Homo sapiens: one gene and its partners. The protein of the gene in region 2 interacts with the protein of the main gene of each other region in a pairwise test. Each region holds a gene or a part of one and is shown on either strand. Other genes may lie near its edges. The genes, in order: FNDC3B, ABHD8 and NLRP3.

Evidence for each region.
Region 1: the proteins of ABHD8 (region 2) and FNDC3B interact in binary tests that used the Homo sapiens proteins (3 or more experiments, as listed by UniProt).
Region 3: the proteins of ABHD8 (region 2) and NLRP3 come close enough for resonance energy transfer, tested with the Homo sapiens proteins (one study listed by BioGRID).

What each region holds. Positions count from the first base shown.
Region 1 is NC_000003.12:172,245,557-172,252,662, reverse strand, and holds part of FNDC3B (fibronectin type III domain-containing protein 3B), read right to left. Parts: intron 5,131-7,106; coding exon 4,887-5,130; intron 1,404-4,886; coding exon 1,122-1,403; intron 1-1,121. UniProt on the Homo sapiens protein: May be a positive regulator of adipogenesis.
Region 2 is NC_000019.10:17,293,364-17,300,469, forward strand, and holds part of ABHD8 (protein ABHD8), read right to left. Parts: intron 5,015-7,106; exon of another isoform or gene 4,949-5,014; intron 1,483-4,948; coding exon 1,312-1,482; intron 1,142-1,311; coding exon 925-1,141; intron 1-924. UniProt on the Homo sapiens protein: Negatively regulates NLRP3-driven inflammation. Promotes NLRP3 degradation through the chaperone-mediated autophagy (CMA) pathway, hence attenuating inflammasome activation and IL1B secretion.
Region 3 is NC_000001.11:247,411,154-247,419,173, reverse strand, and holds the start of NLRP3 (NACHT, LRR and PYD domains-containing protein 3), read right to left. Parts: upstream 3,002-8,020; 5' UTR 2,981-3,001; exon of another isoform or gene 2,859-2,980; intron 2,762-2,858; exon of another isoform or gene 2,128-2,761; intron 1,122-2,127; 5' UTR 380-1,121; coding exon of another isoform or gene 374-379; coding exon 97-373; intron 1-96. UniProt on the Homo sapiens protein: Sensor component of the NLRP3 inflammasome, which mediates inflammasome activation in response to defects in membrane integrity, leading to secretion of inflammatory cytokines IL1B and IL18 and pyroptosis.

The DNA of each region.
Region 1 (7,106 bases), on a different chromosome or scaffold from region 2:
GCGATATTTCATTTTACCTAATCTTCCTCTCTCTTGTCAGAAGCTCTTCCATAGACACTCAAAAATACACATATTCCATCTTTTTCATTCACAATCACATTCTCACAGACACAGTCCCTTTTTCTACCTGAATGAGATGCAGTAAGGAATCCATAAATTCAATGAGTGTTATAATCAATGAGTGTTATAATCAGATTCCTTACTGCATCTCAGTCAGGTAGAAACTGGGACTGTGTCTGTGAGAATGTGATTGTGAATGAAAAAGGGAATCTACTTGAAATAATTGATCTTATGTTTAAAAGTTGTTCAAGTCTTTGTTTTCCAGTCATTTATATCTATAAACTCACCTACCTTATCCAAATGCTACCTTTTTTGCCTCACTTAAGTCATTCTTCCCTATGCCTATAGAAATAGCCACTGTTTTTCCTTATGTGGCATCAAAATAGGTTCTCTCTAAACTACCTCCAAAACTTCATTTAAACACATAAACCTTCCTCCAAATGAACTGATCTACCCAAGAGATTCATCTACAAAAAGACAGATGCCATTCTGAGTTGATGTTTCTCTACCTATATGTGGTGGCCCTCATTCTTCCATCTTATTCTTAGTTTCTGAACACTTAATTCACAGGCAAAAGGTGGTATGAGACAATAACTGATGCCAAAACTAAACAGAAACATATTTCTGTGATTCAATGATAGATTTCATTACAGAAAGGAAGTAATTACGTATGGTTTATGAGGTATAATTATTTTGAGATTTAAACTAGCCTACACTTTTAGAAAAATTATCTTTGGATTTCTTCCACATCTGTCTATTCAGAGAGTGAAACAACAGAAGTAGGCTAACATGAAAAGATTTTCAAATATTTGTTATTAAGTGCAAAGTTGCATGGCATCTGTGACCAAAATGTAGTATTTCTGCCATGAAGTATTAATAAAAAATAAACAATGCAATATTATTTCCTTACCAAGAAATAGATCAAAGAAGGTCTACTCAAATATTCTTAGCAGAACAACCAACCACCATGAAATAATATTCTCATGTAAAAGATGTGGAAACATCATTTGAGATGTCTCTGTCTTGATAATTCACTCTATGGCAAACATCTTGAGTATTACCTTGCAAGTCTGAATCATTCGACTTTGGGCTGCTTCTTGCTCGTCGCTCTGTTTTCTTAATTCCGGGACCACTACCGCTGCCGCCTCCGCCACTTCCACCACTATGGCCCTTCCCATAGCCATTGTATACTGTTGTGCAGCTGCTTTTGTAGATAGAAGAAGGAGGGCTGTTGAGGCGGTTCTGGCGATCGATCTGGCGGTCTTTCAGTTTTTTGTGCGGAGGCTTGCTGTACTGGTCTTCTCGGGTGATGTAGGTTGACATTCCATAAAATGGTATAATTTCTAAAATGGATGATTATGATAAACCCAAACTCAGTTTACATTTTCAATAATAAATTATTAAATGGTCAAATGATCTGGCTCCTGAAGAAGTCTAAAGTATAAAGGAAGTCTAAAGTATTACTAAATAGAGTCTAATAAATATTTTTTAAGAAAATACTGCTGGGCACAGTGGCTCACGCTTTGGGAGGCCGAGGTGGGCGGACTGTCTGAGCTTGGGAGTTCGAAACTAGCCTGGGCAACATGGTGAAACCCCATCCCTACTAAAAATACAAAAAATTAGCCAGGCGTGGTGGTAGGCGCCTATAATCCCAGCTATCCAGGAGGCTGAGGCAGGAGAATCGCTTGAACCCTGGAGGCGGAGGTTGCAGTGAACTGAGATTGCATCACTGCACTCCAGCCTGAGCGACAGAGCAAGACTCTGTCTCAAAAAGAAAAAGAAAAAAGAAAATGCCATATACATGATATACATTTAAAGCATTCCCATTTGTTTCTAACCAATCAAGGAATAATCAATCATTAAAAACTACACTGTGTGTTCAGAAAAATTCCTATATTACAGAGAATACTGAAGACAAGGTTGTTATCCCTAAAGAGCTCATATTCTAGTTGCATTTATAACTGAGTTTGATTTTTACCTTTCAATATGTTTTCAGTAGTTGCAATACATGAAAAAGTCAGAACAAATAAAATACCCCTATTAAACATGTACTTAGAATCAAGCTACTTTAAAAGTCTACTCATCCCTGTAGACAGAATAGTATTTCTACTGGGAAGTATATTGCAGTCAAAGTTTTCTGTGGCATACAAAAGAGCCAACATTTGAACAAATTTAACTAAGATAATGAGATGACATATTTCCATTTAAAATAATCAAAGCTCACAGAATCAGGGGAAATGTTCAAGGAGGAAGTATAAGGATAAAGAAAAGCCATCTCTGAAATCTGGTGCCAAACATAATAAGCTGTGGTCTCAAACTTCTCTTTTGGAGTAATAGAAGGCAAGACAAATGTAGAATGTCACCTGACTTTACTATGCACATTTTAAAGTGGCTCAAAAGAAAATAGAAGCCTGCAAGCAATCTTATGATCTCAAGGGGAAAACTTTATGTTAAATTTAAATTTTTAAATCAGTTCAAAATTATTTTTAGGTATCAGTAAAAATGACAATGCGTAACATAAAGATTGGGTCCTTACATCTTTATAAGAAAAAAGGGTCACCTCTTCTATGGAGTGACAATATAAATTACCATCCAAATCTGAACACTTCTGAGAGCGAAAAGGAAGGAATATCAATAATTTCTTCAAGGCAAGAGACCTACACTAGGACTGTCACAGGCACAACAGAAATGTATGGTTACCCTGCATAATTTAACAAAACTGCTGTCTCAATTACTCAACAGTAAAGCTCCACTGTTTCTTACTGTTAACATAGCTAAAGCATAAACAAGAGTTGTTTTGTTAAAAAACAAATCTTCATGAGAGAACCAGTTTGCACTAGAGAACGTGTCAAAACAAATATAATCCTATTCAGAGAGTGTGTATCCAAAGAAACTATGTCAAAATATACCAGAAGGATAGTAAATGTTCTAAACACCACGATGTATTACACATGAGATTTAACATATTCACTATGGGCAGTAATAATCTTTTCAGACATGTTGAAAACTTTTAAAACTCTTATAGTTTAGAAAATTAATATTTAAATTGCTTTTAGGTATGCACACTAAGAACTAAGGTAAAAGAATATATCAATGGCTTATTTATAAAGGGAAGGGATTTTGTTTTACTGCTTTAATTTGAAATCAATGAAGGCATTTTTATTTGCATACATTATTGCTCTGTGTTATTTTAATGGAATTAGACCCAAATACACCATAAAATGAAGAGACTACAATTTTGCTTAACTCTAATGACGATTTAAATCATACTGTTGTCTTGCCTAAAATTGCAAAGGACAGCATTTACAAAACAGTAACCATGTGGCATCCTACTAACAGACTGCTAAAATAAGGCAAGTCAGACATATACCAGCAAGCAATGAGTCAGTCACCAAGGCCTTTCATGTCATCAGAGCTCAGATACAGCCAGAAAGCTCTAAGAAACACTCAATTATTTAATGCATGTTGAGTCAAAGCACTGAATACATTAAAAAAATTACAGCTAACTAAATTTTTTCAGTTTTTATCCAAATGTTTTCATAGTATATCCCCAATACTTGATGTTTTCTTGGTGTGTCGCATGGAAAAAAGATCAAATTGATAGGAAGTTATTGATGCTGCTATGAAATCAAAGTATTGATTTCATGTTTTGCTATCATCCCCTTATACGACATTGTGAAAGCACCTGATTAATTTGAATCATGTCAAATTTCTTTGACTACAAAAAAAAATAAACAAAACACACATACAGTCAAATTCTATCCCTAAGTTACAACGATATATTTCACTTAAAATATCATCTCAAAAAAGTTTTTTCTGTGAATAAGTTATAATGTGAGATGAACAGGGAATAATTATATATATAAAAATATAATTATAAATAAATAATTAATTATATAGAAATTATATAATTATATATATATAATTCTTAAAAGTGATAACTTGCTCAAACATTCTATGGTATAACAGGCATTTCTTCTACAATGTATCTAAACCAACATAATAAATGTCTGAAGCAGTAAAATGCTTCCATTCATAGTCAGACTCAGAAGAAAATCACTTTGCAAAGTCCTAGAGGCTAAAGTCTAATTTTACCCTCAATTATCTGGTTTCTTAGTATCCATTTTGATAGAGAAAGCCTTTAGACTAAACCAACACCAGGGTCAAAACTTTAAAAAGATATAATGTTGGTAGCTCTGAGGCTCTTTTCATATCCAGGTAAGTATTTGCCTAACAATCAGTGAAATTGCGGCTGCACTAATGGCTACTCTTAAACTAAAAGCAGGTTCAGGAAGGCCACATCAACAGCCAGGGGATTTTTGAGTTCTGCCAGCATCACAACATAGAGCCTTTTAGGAAACCTAAAGGTTCTTGAGACTTCACAATCTTCAAACACTGGAAATGGGGCACAAAACACTTTTCAATTTCCCTTTAACTGGTAGATCATATGGATACCAAAGAAACGATGTGCCACAGTTGTACCTCAGGCCACTCTCACATACAAACATGCTTTCAGGACATGGGAACGATGTCACACTGCCACTTTTCTAAAATAAAAGGTGGCTACCTTACTCCTTGATCTTGTAAGGTGGGGGTTGGGGCCGAGTTTGTGAAAACTGAAAGAAAGAAAAAGAACTAAACCCACAAAGTAATTTTTCCAAGGCACCATTCAGGACAAAGGAAGCTAGGAATTCCCCATGAGTCTTACAAACCACCTAGATCCTTTTCTACTATGCTTATTTCACAAGAAACAAAGGACCGCCTTGAACTATTGAAACGCTGTAATCAGTTTCAACGGCTCCTGACGCCAACGAAAATCTACTCACCTTGCTCACCATATATTGTGTGGGGAAGATGATGCTGGGGAAAAAACTGAGGCGGCATATCTCCAGGTCCGGTAACAGGTGGGTAGTAAGCCGTGTGTGAGTTATGAATAAAATGTGGATGGTGAGTCAGATAGGGAGGGAGATGATGGGTTGGAGACATGGCTGAGGGGTAGCTTGGGGGATAACACTCAGGAGACTGGGGTGTGACCACCACCCGGCGGACTCCAGTACTATCTTCAATCACCTAAAGAAAAACACAAAAGGAAAGAACGCAGTACATATTAGCAGCCTATGAATATATATAGTATTAATAACTTCCACTTTAATTTTACTTTTCTCTTCCACCATAGAAAAAAACAAATGCATGTTGTATTCTGGTTCTCTAGTTCAACCAGTCAAATGAGTTCTAGAAGTAATAACATGTAACTATAAAAACGTACAAAAACAAATTATTCATTGACATCTGATTCTGATCCCATGTAACTTTTTGGAGAGACCAGTATTTGATAATAAATCTTGTTTTTGTCTTAAAATTTTCACTGGCTTCATCCAAGACGAGTGAATTTAATGTGTGCTGAAACTGATTCTAGGAGTGACTTTTGAATTTAACTATCAGTTCAGTGGTTTTCCAGAAAGAGGCTTTCTGTGCCACCTAAGTACTTTTCCAGGGCTAGGCTTCTAGATATGCTGACAACATTCTTCCCCTTTCCTGCTTTAACATGCACAGTTCCATCATCATCAGGGCTTTAGGAAACAAAGGTGGCATTAACGTCAGAAGCCGTAAGTGTGCCCTAAGATTACTTAATCTAGGACTGAGGATATGGATGAAATGAGGGATTCTGACCAAAGAAAAACTTAAGTAACCCCAAATCAGTATGGACACTTTTGCTCCCAAGATGTCCTCATGATGAGTGTTGTGAAAGAAGATGCTTGGAAAAGCAACCTGCTATGAGAAAAGCAAGCCAATCAACACTCTATCCATTCTTTTTCCAATTCTTTGTTCATTATTTATTTTTAGAAATGGGATTTCACTCTGTTGCCCAGGCTGAAGTGCAGTGGCTACACGCAGGTGTGATCATCATACACTACAGCCTTGAACTGGCCTCAAGTCATCTTCCTGCCTCAGCCTCCAAAGTAGCTGGGACTACAGGCATGCACGACCGTGCCCAGCTCCTCTGAATGTTTTCTAATTCATCCAAGTAGAGCAACGAAGGCAGCACAATGCCAATATTTATTGCCTCTGTGGCCAGCGTCACACTACCAGCTCCTATGAGCAAACAACTTTGGTGAAACACAATGAAAGAAATAACTAACACAACAGATACCATGATGAAAAGGTAAAGTTGTAGGGTACAGAGAATGATAACGTGAGATGGGAGAATCAGGAAAGGCTTCAGGGACCTCAAACAATTGGCAGGGCTGGGACAGCTGAGAGATGGCCTCTAGGTCAGGGCCCTGCAAGGAAGTGGACACGGAGTAAACCTGGCAGTGAGGGCCAGGCTGCCAAGAAGCCATGCCAGCTGATCTAATCAAATGCACGATCGGGCACACACTCTGACAGGAAGTTTTGTTTTACAAAAAAAAAAAAATCTAAAAACCGCACAAAACTGACCTTCTATATTGAAATGGATTTCTCATTATACCTCAGGAGGTTAATTATAGGACAAAATAAAATGACTTAATCATGTCTAAAACATCTTAATAACAACAAAAAACTATACTTAGCTTCATATTTTAAAAGTAGTGCTTAAGACAGATTGGCAAGTCTATCAATGTTTATGTTATATTTCAGTGTACAAAATAGGTTTAGATTGAATGAACGGCCATTAATCCTTATGTTAAAAAAACAGAAATCTTTACATTCATTAATAAATCTATCAAAATAAATGTTTCTACTGTGTTAATAGTTCATAAATAAGATAATATTACCTATTTAAAATTAAGATTCCTAGTGAGATGCCTAGGACACAGCTTTTCATGTGATCTTTAATAAATATAATCTCTTCTGGGCCTTGGCAAGCTAATCACACTAACCCCATTTATGAATGCATGGAAGCTAATTTACAAGTGTATGTGAAGTGGGTGCTTAAACCATGACATTGGAAATTCTCATGCATGTATTGATAATTATCATCAAAGCTTCTTCTATTTTGTCTAAAACATAGAGCTGCATGCTGTTTGGTAGCACATGTATATAAATAGCACATGTAGTATAAATAC
Region 2 (7,106 bases):
TGGGATTACAGGAGTGAGCCACCGCGCCCGGCCTGGAGGAGGATTTTGTCAACTTCAACTCTACCAACATTAGGAGCTGGATCATTCTTTGCTGGGGGGGCGGGGGTGGGCGGGGAAGGGGCGGGTAGCTGGGGTGGGGGCTGCTATCCTGTGCATTTGTAGGGTGTTGAGCAGCATCCCTGGCCTCCACCCACTAGATGCCAGTAGTACCCCCTCCCCCTCAGTCGTGACACCTAAAAATGTCTCCATGCATTTCCACGTGTTCCTTGGGGGCAGAATCCTCCTTAGTTAAGAACCACCAGTCCAGTTATACTTTAATGGTTTTTGTTTTTTTTTTTTTTTCTTTAAGAAACGGGGTCTTGCTCTGTCGCCCAGGCTGGAGTGCAGTGGTGCGAGCATGGCTCACCACAGCCTTGAACTCCTGGGTTCAAGCGATCCGCCCCACTCAGCCTCCCAAGTTGCAGCGATTATTGGCGTGAACCACCTCGCCGGGCTAGTATCCAGGGCTATTCTAAGTGCTAAGGATCCCCAGACCCTTTCTAATCTGAACTCGCTAATTAGAGTTTCTAATCTAAAGATCCCCTGGTGCCGGTCTTCTAGAATTATATAGGTCACCGGTCTCATACAAATCCTCCGCTGTGAGGAGAGCCTTCTTACAGCGGTGGGGACAGTGCGTAATTGCTAACACCTGTCCAGGGCAGCCCTGCTTTCTAGATTCTACTTCTGATGCTAGACCTAATGCTCCTGTTTGCCTGGGGTCAGAACAAGATACAGCAACTAGAGGCCACGCCCACCCGGCAGCCACGCCCCCTCGGGAAGAAAGCACGCCCACCAAGCGCTACCACGCCCCCCGCAGAGGCCACGCCCCTCCCGGGCAGCACCCTGGGGATTTGTAGCTGTGGCGCCCCAGGTGCCCGCCTCTACCTCGGCCATGCGCTGGTCTTCCTCCACCGGCACAAACTTATCGTGCATGCCGTGGACAAGCAGGACGGGCACGGTGAGCTCGGCGTGGTAGACCTCGTCGCCCTCGGGCCAGTACTGGCCGCTCATCATGGCCCGGAGTACGAAGGATGACACGTTGAAAGCGTTGCCCTCCTTTAACAGCTGCTTCTCCTTGGCTCCTTGGCGGGCGAAGCCGGCCCTGGTGGTGGTGGAGGCACCGCTAGAGCCCCTTATGCCAGCCCGACTGCCGTGGGGTGCCCCCGATGCCAGCCCTAGTCCCAGCGGTACAGTCCCCCCTCCCATCCAACTCGAGCAGATGCCTGGGTTCGCCAGGGCCAGGATCACGGTCTTTGGGGTGGGGACACTCACTTGAGGAAGCTCCAGGCCAGGCAGGGCGACAAGCAGTGCAGGACGCAGGTGGGCATGTTGAAGATTGAGCAGAAGCTGGGCTCCAGCGCCGTAGGGCCCCCGCCATTGATCATGATCACCTTGTGCACTAGGTCTGGGTACTCATGTGCCAGGAATGTGCAGAAAGAGACACTGCCCGGAACGGGTGGGGTGATAGGAGGATTGAAGGGAGGCGGTCAGCAGGATACAAGCAGTGACCATTTTGTTTTGCTTTGTTTTTGTTTTTGTTTGAGACAGTTTTACTCTGTCCCCCAGGCTGGAATGCAGTGGCTCCATCTTGGCTCACTGCAACCTCTGCCTCCCAGGTTCAAGCGATTCTCCTGCCTCAGTCTCCCGAGTAGCTGAGATTGCAGGCGCACACCACCACACCCAGGTAATTTTTTTTTTTTTTTTTTTTTTTTTTGAGACGGAGTCTCGCTCTGTCGCCCAGGCCGGACTGCGGACTGCAGTGGCGCAATCTCGGCTCACTGCAAGCTCCGCTTCCCGGGTTCACGCCATTCTCCTGCCTCAGCCTCCCGAGTAGCTGGGACTACAGGCGCCCGCCACCGCGCCCGGCTAATTTTTTGTATTTTTAGTAGAGATGGGGTTTCACCATGTTGGTCGGGCTGGTCTCAAATTCCTGACCTCAAGTGATCCATCCGCCTCGGCCTCCCAAAGTGCTGGGATTACAGGCCTGAGCCACTGCGCCTGGCCTGGTTTGTTTTTGTTTTTGAGATGGAGTCTCATTCTGTTGCCCAGGTTGGAGTACAGTGATGCAATCTCAGCTCACTGCAACCTCTGCCTCCTGGGTTCAACTGATTCTCCTTCCTCAGCCTCCCGAGTAGCTGGGAGTACAGGCATGCACCACCACACCTGGCTAATTTTTGTATTTTTTAGTAGACACAGGGTTTCAGCATGTTGCTCAGGCTGGTCGAGAACTCCTGACCTCAAGTGATCCACCCACCTTGGCTTCCCAAAGTGCGGGGATTACAGGCATGAGCCACTGGGCTGGCCTGTTTTGTTTTTGTTTTTGAGACAAGGTTTCGCTGTCGCCTAGGCTGGAGTGGTGCGGTGGCGTAATCATAGCTCCCTGCAGCCTTGACTTCCTGGGCTCAAGAGATCCTCCCACCTCAGCCTTCTGAATAGCTGGGACTACAGGCATGTGCCACCATGCTCAGCTAATTTTTAAAAATTTTTTTATAAAGACAGGGTCTCCTTATGTTGCCCAGGCTGGTCTTGAACTCCTGGGCTCAAGTGATCCTCTGGCCTTAACCTCCCAAAGTGCTGGGATTATAGGCGTGAGCCGTGACACCCGGCCTGGTGAGGGGGTTCATGTCCTCCCCCTACCCAGAAGGCAGGTCCTTGGAAGCCAAGATTCTTCCCCTGGGGTCCATGGACACCTGAAGGGGTGAGGGATGAGTGCGGCCTCTCAAATACCGTGAAAGTGTGAGTTTGAGTGTTGAGGATGGAACTTATTTTGAAGAGAGAATCTGGATCCAGAAGTTTCACCAGACTTTTTATTTTAATTGTTTAAAATTTTTGTAGAGATGGGGGTCTCACTATGTTGCCCAGGCTGGTCTTGAACTTCTGGGCTCAAGTGATCCTTCCACCTTGGCCTTCCAAAGTGTTAAGATTATAGATATGAGCCACTGTGCCCGGCCCTCATCAGATTCTTCAAGCCACCATGACCCAAAAGCGGTAAGAATTACTCATCAGCAAGTGGTAGGAAAGCAATCTGATTAAACAAATGCTTCCGGCTGCCCAGGGGAGGTCACTGTTTCCTACTATCCCTTCCCTTTCAGGATGTTCTGCCACCTGCCTCTGGGCATGACATATCTGTCTTCCTTATACAAGATGGAAGGCCTGAGAAGCCCCCAAAGCTGAGCTCCTCATTCCTACAAAAGCAGGGGTCAACAAACTATGTACGGCCTGTGGGCTAGTCATTTGCTTTTTTAAATACAGTTTACACTTTTGGAGATTTGAAAAATGTTTCCTAAATAAGGTTTTTTTTTTTTTTTTTGAGATGGAGTCCTGCTCTGTTGCCCACGCTGGAGCACAGTGGCGCGATCTCGGCTCACTGCAACCTCCGCCTCCCGGGTTCAAGTGATTCTCCTGTCTCAGCCTCCCGAGTAGCTGGGATTACAGGCATCTGCCATTATGCCCGGCTAATTTTTGTATTTTTAGTAGAGACGGGGTTTCACCGTGTTAGTCAGGCTGGTCTTGAACTCCCGACCTCAGGTGATCTGCCCACCTTGGCCTCCCAAAGTGCTGGGATTAGAGGCGTGAGCCACCGTGCCTGGCCAAAAAATGTTTCCTAAATAAAGTTTTATCAGAAGTTCCAACAGTGACTGTATGGCCTGCAAACCTAAAATATTCGCTATCCGATCCTTTAAGGAAATGTTTGCCAGCCCCTGCTGTAATGAGGAAAGGATACAGACAGGAGTCAGGCAGACCTGATTGTGTCAGGGACTTCCTGTATGCCTTTGGGCAGGTTGCTTCACCTCTCTGAGCTTCAGCCTCCACATTCCTGAAGTTGTAAATGTGCTGACCTAATAGCACTGTTATGGGGTCATGGGAACTATTGTAGGTGGGTGTTTTTTTTGTTTTTTTGTTTTTTTCTCGAGACAGAGTCTTGCTCTGTCACTCAGGCTGGAGTGCAATGGTGCGATCTCGGCTCACTGCAACCCCCACCTCATGGGTTCGAATGATTATCCTGCCTCAGCCTCCCAAGTAGCTGGGATTATAGGCACCTGCAACCATACCCAGCTACTTTTTGTATTTTTATTAGAGACGGGGTTTCACCATTTTGGCCAGGCTGGTCTTGAACTCCTGACCTTGTGATCCGCCTGCCTCGGCCTCCAAAAGTTCTGGGATTACAGGTGTGAACCACTGTGCCCAGCAGGTGGGTGCTCATTTAATTAGAGGAATCATTTCTCATAAGCATCAACTTTTGAGTATGTTATATAAAGAAATATAAACAAATAAGAGCTGTTACCTCTCAGTCTAGATTCCTTTCTTTTAGATACTTATGTAACTTCTTTGTTTTCTTTTCTTTTTTTTTTTTTTTTACTTTTTAGTTTTTTGTAGAGATGAGATCTTGCTTATGTTGCCCAGGTTGGTCTTGAACTCCTCAGCTATAGCAGTCCTCCCACCTCAGCTTCCCAAAGTGTTGGGATTATAGGTGTAAGCCACCACACCTGGCCACTTATTTATTTTTCTTTTTTCTTTTTTTTTTTTTTTGAGATGGAGTCTCACTCTGTCACCCAGGCTGGAGTGCAGTGGCACAATCTCGGCTCACTGCAAGCTCCACCTCCTGGGTGCACGCCATTCTCCTGCCTCAGCCTCCTGAGTAGCTGGGACTACAGGCGCCTGCCACCATGCCTGGCTAATTTTTTTTTGTATTTTTTAGTAGAGACGGGGTTTCACCGTGTTAGCCAGGATGGTCTTGATCTCCTGACCTCCTGATCCGCCCGCCTCGGCCTCCCAAATTGCTGGGATTACAGGTGTGAGCCACCACGCCTGGCCTTTTTTTCTTGTCTAATTGCATAGGCTAGAATCTCTAAAACAGTGGTGCTCAACTTGCCTGGCTGTTCAATCTTGCCTTTCTTCCTGGATAAAGGAGAGAATGAGGCCACTTGGTAGTGGTCAAGCCCTGGGGACCAAGCCTTCCATGGAGGGGTTCTTGGTAAGTTTTAGGTTGTATTACCTGCCCTTTAAGCAGGAGTGAATTACAGTAACCCATGCCTTTGTAAATGCCTAGAATTTACAGGATTCCGATGAGCGCTTCCTGAATGCACAGTGTTCTCCAGGGCAGTTGATTTTTTAACTTAGTCTAAGGCAGTGGTTCTCAGCTGGGGGTAATTCTGCCCACCAGGGCACGCTTGGCAACTACTGAAGACATTTTTGACTGTCATGATCAACACTAGATTGTGTAGTTGCATCCAGTGGGCAGAAGCCAGGGATGCTACTAAACATCCTATAGCCCCTCACAGAAAAAAAATAACCTGGCCAAACACGATAGTGCTGGGATTGAACAACACTGCTTTTTTTTTTTTTTTTTTTTTTTTGGGCAGAGTCTCACTCTGTTGCTCAGGCTGGAGTGCAGTGGTGTGATCTTGGCTCACTGCAACCTCTGCCTCCCAGGTTCAAGTGATTCTCCTGCCTCACACCCCCGAGTAGCTGGGATTACAGGCACACACCATCATGCCTGGTTAATTTTTTGTACTTTTAGTAGAGATGGGGTTTCACCATGTTGGCCAAACTGGTGTTGAACTCCTGACCTCAAGTGATCTGCCTGCTTTGGCTTCCTAAAGTGCTAGGATTACAGGCGTAAGCCACTGCACCTGGCCTGAGCAACACTGCTTTAGAACAATGTGAAACAATATCAGTGATGACGGAAATCCCTGTCTGATTACATATGCTAATGGGAGTTTTCAGCCTGGTATAGCGGCTCATGCCTGTTACCCCACCACATCGGGAGGCCAAGGAGGGAGGATGGCTTGAGCCCAGGAGTTCAAGACCAGCCTGGGCAACATAATGAGACCCCCCCCCCATTCTCTATATAATTTTTTTTTGAACTTGAAAATTGGCCTGGTGCGTTGGCTCACGCCTGTAATCCCAGCGCTTTGGGAGGCCGAGGAGGGCGAATCACGAGGTCAGGAGATCGAGACCATCCTGGCTAACACGGTGAAACCCCGTCTGTACTAAAAAGACAAAAAATTAGCCAGGCATGGTAGCGGGTGCCTGTAGTCCCAGCTACTAGGGAGGCTGAGGCAGGAGAATGGCATGAACCTGGGAGGTGGAGCTTGCAGTGAGCCAGGATCACGCCACTGCACTCCAGCCTGGGGGACAGAGTGAGACTCCATCTCAAAAAAAAAAAAAAAAAAAAAAATTAAGGCTGAGCACAATGACTCACACCTGTAGTCCTAGCACTTTGGGAGGCTGAGGTGCAAGGATCACTTGAGCCCAGTAGTTAAAGAACATCTTGGGCAACATAGTGAGATGCCATCTCTATTTAAAAGAAAAAAAAATTTTAAAAATGTAAAAATTAAATTGAAAAATGGGATTTTTTTCAAGGAGAAAAATTAGGATTTTTGTTTGCTTTGTTTTGTTTTAGGAGATAAGGTTTTGCCATGTTGTCCAAACTCATCTCCAATGATCCATCCACAAAGTGCTGGGATTACAAATGTGCACCACCGCGCGTGGTGGCCCCTTTTTTTTTTTTCATGACGGAGTCTCCTTCTGTCGCCCAGGCTGGAGTGCAGTGGCACAATATGATCTTGGCTCACTGCAAGCTCCGTCTCCCGTGCTCATGCCATTCTCCTGCCTCAGCCTCCCGAGTAGCTGGGACTATAGGTGCCCACCACCACACCCAGCTAATTTTTTGTATTTTTAGTAGAGACAGGGTTTCACCGTGTTAGCCAGGATGGTCTCAATCTTCTGACCTCGTGATCCGCCCGCCTCAGCCTCCCAAAGTGCTGGGATTACAGGCGTGAGCCACCGCGCCCGGATTTTTTTTTCTTTTTTAAAGAGCGACAGGTTCTTGCCATGCTGCCCAGGCTGGAGTGCAGTGGTGTGATCACAGTTCACTGCAGCCTCGACCTCCCAGACTCAAGCAATCTCCTGCCTCAGCCCTTAAGTAGGTGGAACTATATGCGTGCACCTCCTCACCTAGCTAATGTTTGTACTTTTTGTAGAGCTAGGGGGTTCTCCCTATGTTGCCCAGGCTGGTCTCAAACTCCTTGCCTCAAGATATCCTCCCGCCTTGGCCCCCGAAA
Region 3 (8,020 bases), on a different chromosome or scaffold from region 2:
AAAAAAAAATATATATATATATATATATAAAGATGGAAAATTGTACACTATGTGCACTTGGCCACAATTTTTTTTAAAAGTCTTCCTTCCACTCACCCCACTTCGGCTCATCTCTTTTTGCTTTCTCATAAAGGTCTCTCCTGTTGATCGCAGCGAAGATCCACACGGCCATGGCCCACGCCTTCTCCTCCCCATTGAAGTCGATCATTAGCGTGGCTAGATCCACATGGTCTGCCTTCTCTGTCTGACCCCTCGGGAGGGGGATGCAGCCCTTCTGGGGAGGATAGTCCTCTAAGTGCATCTTAAATTTCTTCAAGTCCACATCCTCCAGGTCCTCCAGGTACCTGGCCAGCTTGCAGCGGGTGCTTGCCATCTTCATCTGCAGCTGTTTTCAGGGTCCTTAGGCTTCGGTCCACACTAAGATACCAGGCAGTGAACACGGCACACGGATGAGTCTTTTTTAAAGTCTCCACTTTGAGAGATATAAATTATCAAAAACTCAGCAAACAGAAAGAAAAAAATGTCACATGACTGTAACAAGTCAAAATCTTTAATTTTGAAAAGTTAGCCAAGGCCGGGCACAGTGGCTCACGCCTGTAATCCCAGCACTTTGAGAGGCCAAGGCAGGCAGATCACCTGAGCTGAGGAATTCAAGACCAGCCTGGCCAACATGGCAAAACTGTGTCTCTACTAAAAGTACAAAAATGAGCCGGGTGTGGTGGCGGGCGCCTGTAATCCCAGCTACTCAGGAAGTTGAGGTAGGAGAATTGATTGAACCCGGGAAGTGGAGGCTGCAGTGAGCCAAGATCACGCCACTGCACTCCAGCCTAGGCGACACAGCAAGACTCCATCTCAAAAAAAAAAAAGTTAGCCAAATGCTTACCAGAAAGTTCTCCTGTTGGCTCGATCCAGGAGTGTGTCCTGAGCCATGGAAGAAAGGTTTCCCTATGGAGGGAAAAATATGCAAACAAATCCATAAACAGGATTGTATTACAGTTTACGGTGAACAACCACTTCACGATGCCATCTTGACCCATCAGCAAGAAAATTTTTGTCCCGTTGATTACGGGGCTATGACATTGGACAAACTCTTCACTATTCCTCAACTTCAGTTTCCTCATCTACAAAATGAGAAAGCAGAAGAGAATGTTTTCAGTTCCTCCAAACTGAAGGCTCTGGCTCTTTGCTTCTGTTTTTGTGAGGGAAGAGGGATGAGAGACAATAGAAGGAGAAGGCCAGGAGGTGAGTAAGTGTGTTGATAACAGAACAGGACGTGGCTAGGGAGAGAGGAGAGAGAACATAAAAGCTTGCAGAGGAGGGGACAGTCTTTGACTGCACTTCTATCAACCAGTGGATTGAAGTGAGATGAAGCTGGGAGTGCATAATGGAGAATAATAAAAACATACATCCCTGTAATCCCAGCACTTTGGGAGGCCGAGGTGGGCGGATCACCTGAGGTCAGGAGTTGGAGACCAGGCTCACCAAACAACAGGGAGAAATCCCGTCTCTACTAAAAATACAAAAATTAACCGGGCATGGTACCAGGCACCTGTAATCCCAGCTACTCGGGAGGCTGAGGCAGGAGAATCGCTTGAACCCAGGAGGCGGAGGTTGCGATGAGCCAAGATCACACCACTGCACTCCAGCCTGGGCAATAAGAGCAAAACTCCATCTCAAAAAATAAAATAGAATAAAATAAAATAAATAAAAACATACATCCTTTAATGTCTCCTTGCAAAATTCGCAATTGTTATCATTATAATTCACATTAATTTAGAGCTTTCCACAGGCTAGGCACTCACTGATGTTTTTCCCCATCTAACCTGCACAGAGCTCTATGAGGTGCACCTATTCCTAGCCCCATTTTATAGATGCATAAACTGAGTCTTAGGGGGACTAGGAAGCCTGCCGAGGGGTTTAGAACCAGGAAGGAACAGAGCCAGGATTTTGACCAGAGATATGAGACCATGTCTTCCATCACTTGTTTCAGTCAGACAAAGACAAAGACAACAAAATAGATGACTAAAAGACACACTTCCCCAGCATTTATCACAGGTGTATCACTGCAGCATTCACCAACATAGTCTTCCCAACTAGACTGTGAGTTCCACAAAAACTAGCAATCACCTGCTGTATCTTTAGATCTTCCATATCTCCTAGAGTCCGGATGGATGAACAAGTTGGCTTTGTTTGGAATTGTTCCCTCCTTGATCCCTTGATTATACTCTATTTGGCAAAGCACCTCAACCTAAAGCCATAAATAACACTCAAGGGAGGCAGAGAGCCTGGAAAACGGTGGAGCTCTCCAAATTGGAATTTCTGTGACTGCAGTTCAATGTCAAGATGCCTCAGACTCACTCATCTCTCCCGTCCCATCTCCATTCCTGCCTATCTACTCCTCGCCTCCTGAGCCCTGCAAACCCAGCCCTGTGCATCCTGAGGTGACTGCTCTCCAGACAGCCCTATTAGCTCCGCATACCCTCCCAGCTCCTGCCCATCCTGAGGTGACTGCTCTCCAGACAGCCCTATTAGCTCCGCATACCCTCCCAGCTCCTGCCCCATCAGTCCTTCCATCTGCATCAGGATTCTGCCTTTCTTCTGTGCTCCTTCCACCCTAACACCAGCACAAAAATCTGCTGCCCTTTGGTCTTTAAGGAGGTTTGTTTCCTTCTGTATATCCCATCCATCTTCTCCCCTGGGAGGGATACTGGGCAAATCTGCTGAAGTCGTGGGTGTAAACTATGGTTGCTGCCGCTGTCCTCCCCGCTTCCCCCCGCCACATACACACACACGAACTTGCACACGTAGAGCCCAAATAATGATAAAAGAACATTCCAGAAATGTTGTTGAAGCACAACCTTGGAGACGCCAGAAGAAATTCCTAGTGCATTAACCAGGACAAGTTCTGCCCTCTGAACACAATCTCCCCCACTGCTCTCCCGGTCCTGTCGCCCACACTGCCCCGCGGAGCTGGACTTACCCAGATGCCAGCCTCAGGAACAGCTAGAGAGGAAATGCAATGAATTTATAGCAGTCGCAGCCCCAGAAGGGGCAGGAAGGATGTGGTCTCCACTTACATCAGAGCAGAGGCAGAGAGACTAATGGTTAATCACATAGCTGGATTTTCCAAATGGGATCAACAGTGTTGTCAAAACCGTGTCTCGGTTCCATACTGGGGTTCACCTTGCTCTCCTCTGAGGCACCCCACAGAAGCAGGGTGGGAGGCCAGTATGAGATGGGGCTGGGGGTCAAATCGGCAGTGCTAAATGGATGTTGCCTCTGACACTGCCCGCTGCAACGGCTCCACTGAGAGTGAGGGAAGTGAAACTAAGGACATGCCATGCGAGTGAGTAAAGAATCCAGAGCATGACCTGACCCAGCCTTCAAACTCCAGAGTCCATGCCCTGTCCTCTCACAGCAAGATGGCTGGAAGGCAGTACAGGTTCTCTCCGACATGTTCTACTTTTAAAGCACAAATTTTACTCCCTGACTCATTGACTCACCTGTTCCACTAACACTCACGGAATGGCTGGTATGTGGCAGGCATGCACACAAAGCCTCAGCTTGAGTAGCTTGAGGAGAGACACACACAGACCTACTCTGCAGCTCATGAGACGGCCGCAGGACCACAGACCGGCAAAGGCACAAGTTCAACAGAGCTTGGTGGGTGAGAGGCACTCGCTCAGCCTCTGGGTGAGTGAAAAGGACGAGCACCCAGTTCAGTGGAGGGATGTCAGCAAATGACTGGGTCTGTCTGTGCCTCATACCTGTAAAAGGGTGACAATAATTGCCTGCTACTTCTTTAGATCTTCCAAATCTCCTAGACTCAGGATGGATGAACAAGTGGTTTTGCTTGGAATTGCCCCCTCCTTGATCCCTTCATTATACTGCATTTGACCAAGCACTACATCAACCCAAATAACGGTACCTATCCTAGAAGGCTGTCAGAAAACACTGAGTGAATGGCTAAACGTGAGGCCTTTAAAACAGAGCCTGGCACAGAGAAGCTAGAATAAGCAGTTGGTTCCGATGACTACCACCTTTCTACAGAACTGCAGAGAGAATGCTCTACAACATGAGAGAGGCATCTAGTCCTGCTTAGGGGCATGACAGCAGACCTGAGTCTCCATGAACCAGGTGAAAGGTGTCATTCGGGGCTGGAGCTGAGGCAGGAGCAGCAAAAACTTCAGGTGCTGAAGCTAGAGAGAAAGCAGACCAAATATGCTCCAAAAGAAAGGAGCTCAGCCTGGGTGCAGTGGCTCATGCCTGTAATCCCAGCACTTTGAGAGGCCAAGGCAGGCAGATCACAAGGTCAGGAGTTTGAGACCAGCCTGGCCAACATGACGAAACCCCATCTCTACTAAAAATATAAAAAAAAATAGCTGGGTGTGGTGGCGGGCACCTGTAATCCCAGCTACTCAGGAAGCTGAGGCAAGAGAATCACTTGAACCTGGGAGGTGGAGGCTGCAGTGAGCTGAGATTGTGCCACTGCACTCCAGCCTGGGTGACAAGAGCAAGACTCCATTTCAAAAAAAAAAAAAGGAGCTCATTGGCTGAACCTGGGATCTTTTTGTTTTTGTTTGTTTAGTCAAGTTAATTTAGGTATAATTCAGCCGGGCGCAGTGGCTCACGCCTGTAATCCCAGCTCTCAGGGAGGCAAGAGGCGGGAGGATAGCTTGAGCCCAGGAGTTCGAGACCTGCCTGGGCAATATAGTGAGACCCCATTCTCCAGAAAAAGGAAAAAAAAAAGACAAATTTAGGTATAATTCATATGCAGTAAAAATCCATGCCTTTATAAAAACAGACCCATAGACCAGTGGAACAGAAATAAACTCAAGTATATGCAGTCAACTAATTCTTTGACAAGGTCACCAAGAAGACACAATGGAGAAAGGACAATCTCTTCAATAAAGATGTTGGCTATAGAAGTGTGAAAAAAAAATCAAGAAAAATATAAGATTTTGAAAAATTAAGCTTTTGGTGAAACTGGATTTCCACACGCAAAAGAATAAAACTTGGCACACACAAAAACCAACTCAAAATGGATTAAAGATCTAAACATAAGATCTAAAACTGTAAAACTCCTAGAAGAAAATAGAGAAGAAGCCAGGCATGGTGGCTCATGCCTGTAATCCCAGCACTCTGGGAGGCTGAGGCAGGAGGATCACCTGAGGCCAGAAGTTCACAGTCAGCCTGGGCAACATAGTGAGACTTTGTGTCTACAAAATTAAAAAAAAAAAAATTAGCCAGGCATGGTGCTGTGCACCTGTAGCCCAGCTACTCAGGAGGCCGAGGCAAGAAGATCACTTGAGCCCAGGAATTTGAGGTTACAGTGAGCTATAATGACACTACTGCATTCCAGCCTGGGTAACAGAATGAGACCCAATCTCTAAACAGATAAAAAACTAAATATAAAAAATAGAAAACAGAGGAGAAAACTTCTTGATATTAGCCTTGGCATGGATATTTTTAATGTCTCAACAAAAGCAAAGGAACAAAAGTAAAGATAAATAAGTGGGAATACATCAAAGTAAAAAGCTCCTGTATAGCAAAAGAAACAATCAACAGAGTGAAAAGGTAGCCAACAAATTGGAAGAAAATAGTTTTAAGCCATATATCAGATAAGTAGTTAATATGCAAAATATGTAAGGAATTCACACAACTCAAAGCATAAAACAAATAATCTGATTTTTAAAATGAAGAAAGGAACTGAATAGACATTTCTCTAAAAAAGAAACAAAAATGGTCAACATGTATACAAAAAAGTGCTCAACATCACTAATCATCAGGGAAATGCAAACCAAACCCACAATGAGGTACCACCTCAAACCTGTTAGGATGGCTATTAGCAAAATGACAAGAGACAAACATTGGCTAGGGCGTGAAGAACAGGGAACCCTTGCACATTGCTGCTGGGAATGCAGATTGGTGCAGCCATTGCAGAAAACAATATGGAGGTTCCTAAAGAAATTAAAAATAGAACTACCGTATGACCCAGCAATCCTTCTTCTGAGTGTGTATCCAAAGGAAATAAAATCACCACCTCACAAAGACATCTGTGCACTCATGTTCATAGCAGCATTATTCACCATGGTCCAGATAGGCAAACAACCCAAGTGTCTATTGACAGATGAATAAATAAAGAGTTTGGGGCATATATACACAATACAATCTTAGTTAGTATTAAAAATTGAGACTCTGCTATTTGCCACAACATAGATGAACCCGGTGGACTTTACACAAAGCATAATAAGCCAGGCACAGAAAGACAAACACTACATGATCTCACTCATATGTGGAACCTTAAAAAAAAAAAAAAAAAAAGTTAGGCCAGGAGTGGTGCCTCACACCTGTAATCCCAGCACTTTGGGAGGCTGAGGTGAGTGGATCACTTGAGCCCAAGAGCTTGAGACCAGCCTGGGCAAGATAGTGAGGCTTCACCTCTACCAAAAAAATGAAAAAAAGAAAAGAAAGGAGGGAGGGAGGGAAGGAAGCCAGGTGCAGTGGTGTGCACATGTCACCCCAGCTACTTGAGAGGCTGGGAGGCTGAGGTGGGAGGATTGCTTGAGTCTGGGAGGTCGAGGCTGCAGTGAGCCGAGATCACACCACTGCACTCCAGCCTGAGTGACAGACCGAGATCCTGTCTCAAAAAAAAATAGTTGAATATATAGAAACAGAGAGTTACCGGGGTAGAGGAAATAAAATGACGGTCAAAGGGTACGAAATTTCGGTTATGTAGGATAAATAAGCCGAGAGATCTAACAAACAGTGTGGGAACGATAGTTAAAAATATTATAAACCTGAAATTTGCTAAGAGAGATTTTAGATGTTTTTACCACCCACAAGAAAGATTATTATGTGAGATGGTGGCTATGTTAACTCATGTTAATTTGCTTGACTGCAGCAATCATTTCACTATGTATATCAAACTGCCATGTTATACACCTGAAATATGTACAATAAAATAAATATTCGCACCTTTTTCATGCACAGGCCTGTGAGTGCTCACAAGCATATAGCTACCCACCACCACAGCCCACACAGAGCACCTGCATCAGCTGCACATGCTCCCTGTGCAGCCTCTGTCCCCACCCACTGTGCTGCCACATAGTCAGCCTCTGTCCCCACCCGCAGCCCCACTTCTTCCACCTGCTAAAGCATTACCTTTTCCAGAGCATCACATAAACAGTGTGCAGCCTTTGGTGAGCGAGTCCGCTCACTTCATATGATGCCTGTGAGATTCAGATCAGTAGCTTATTCCTTTTTACTGCAGTTAAGTATTTCATGGGTTGGATAGGCCACAATTTGGTTTTCTATTCCCTAGGCAAAGGACAGTTGGGCTGTTTCCGTTTTTGGCAATCGTCAATTATGCCACTGTCACTCATGCAGCTGGCGAACTGGCTGCAATTGTGTAAGGACATCAGTCACTTGGGGCAGTGGGAAGTTCACGAGAAGCAGATGAGGTTTCCAGCCTTCGCTGCTTCACTCTCCGCTGAATGCTGCGACCACTCCTGTGGTCCGACTCCTTGCCTGCGACCCTCACCTCAGCTTTCCTGTGAGGCTCAAATAAAACAAGACCTGATCTATAATACATTATTGTAGAGAGGAAAAAATAAATAAAATAATACCTGACAGCAAAATGTAAACTGTACAGTAGTATTCAAATTGTAGGTCAGGCCAGTTTCAGTGGCTCACACCTGTAATCCCAACGCTTTGGGAGGTTTGAGGCAGGAGGATCACTTGAAGCCAGGAGGCCAAGAGCAGCCTGGGCAACATAGTGAGACCCCATCTCCACAAAAAATTAAAAAATAGACGGATGTGGTGGTGCATGCCTGTAGTACCAGCTACTCAGGACGCTGAGGTGGGAGGATCGCTTGAGCCCAGGAAATTGAGGCTGCAGTGAGCTAGGACTGTGCCACTGCACTCCAGCCTGGGTGACAGAGTGAGACCCTATATTAAAAAAATGCAGATTATGAATCTTGAAAAGATACTCTAATCATACATAAAAACTTGTCAATGA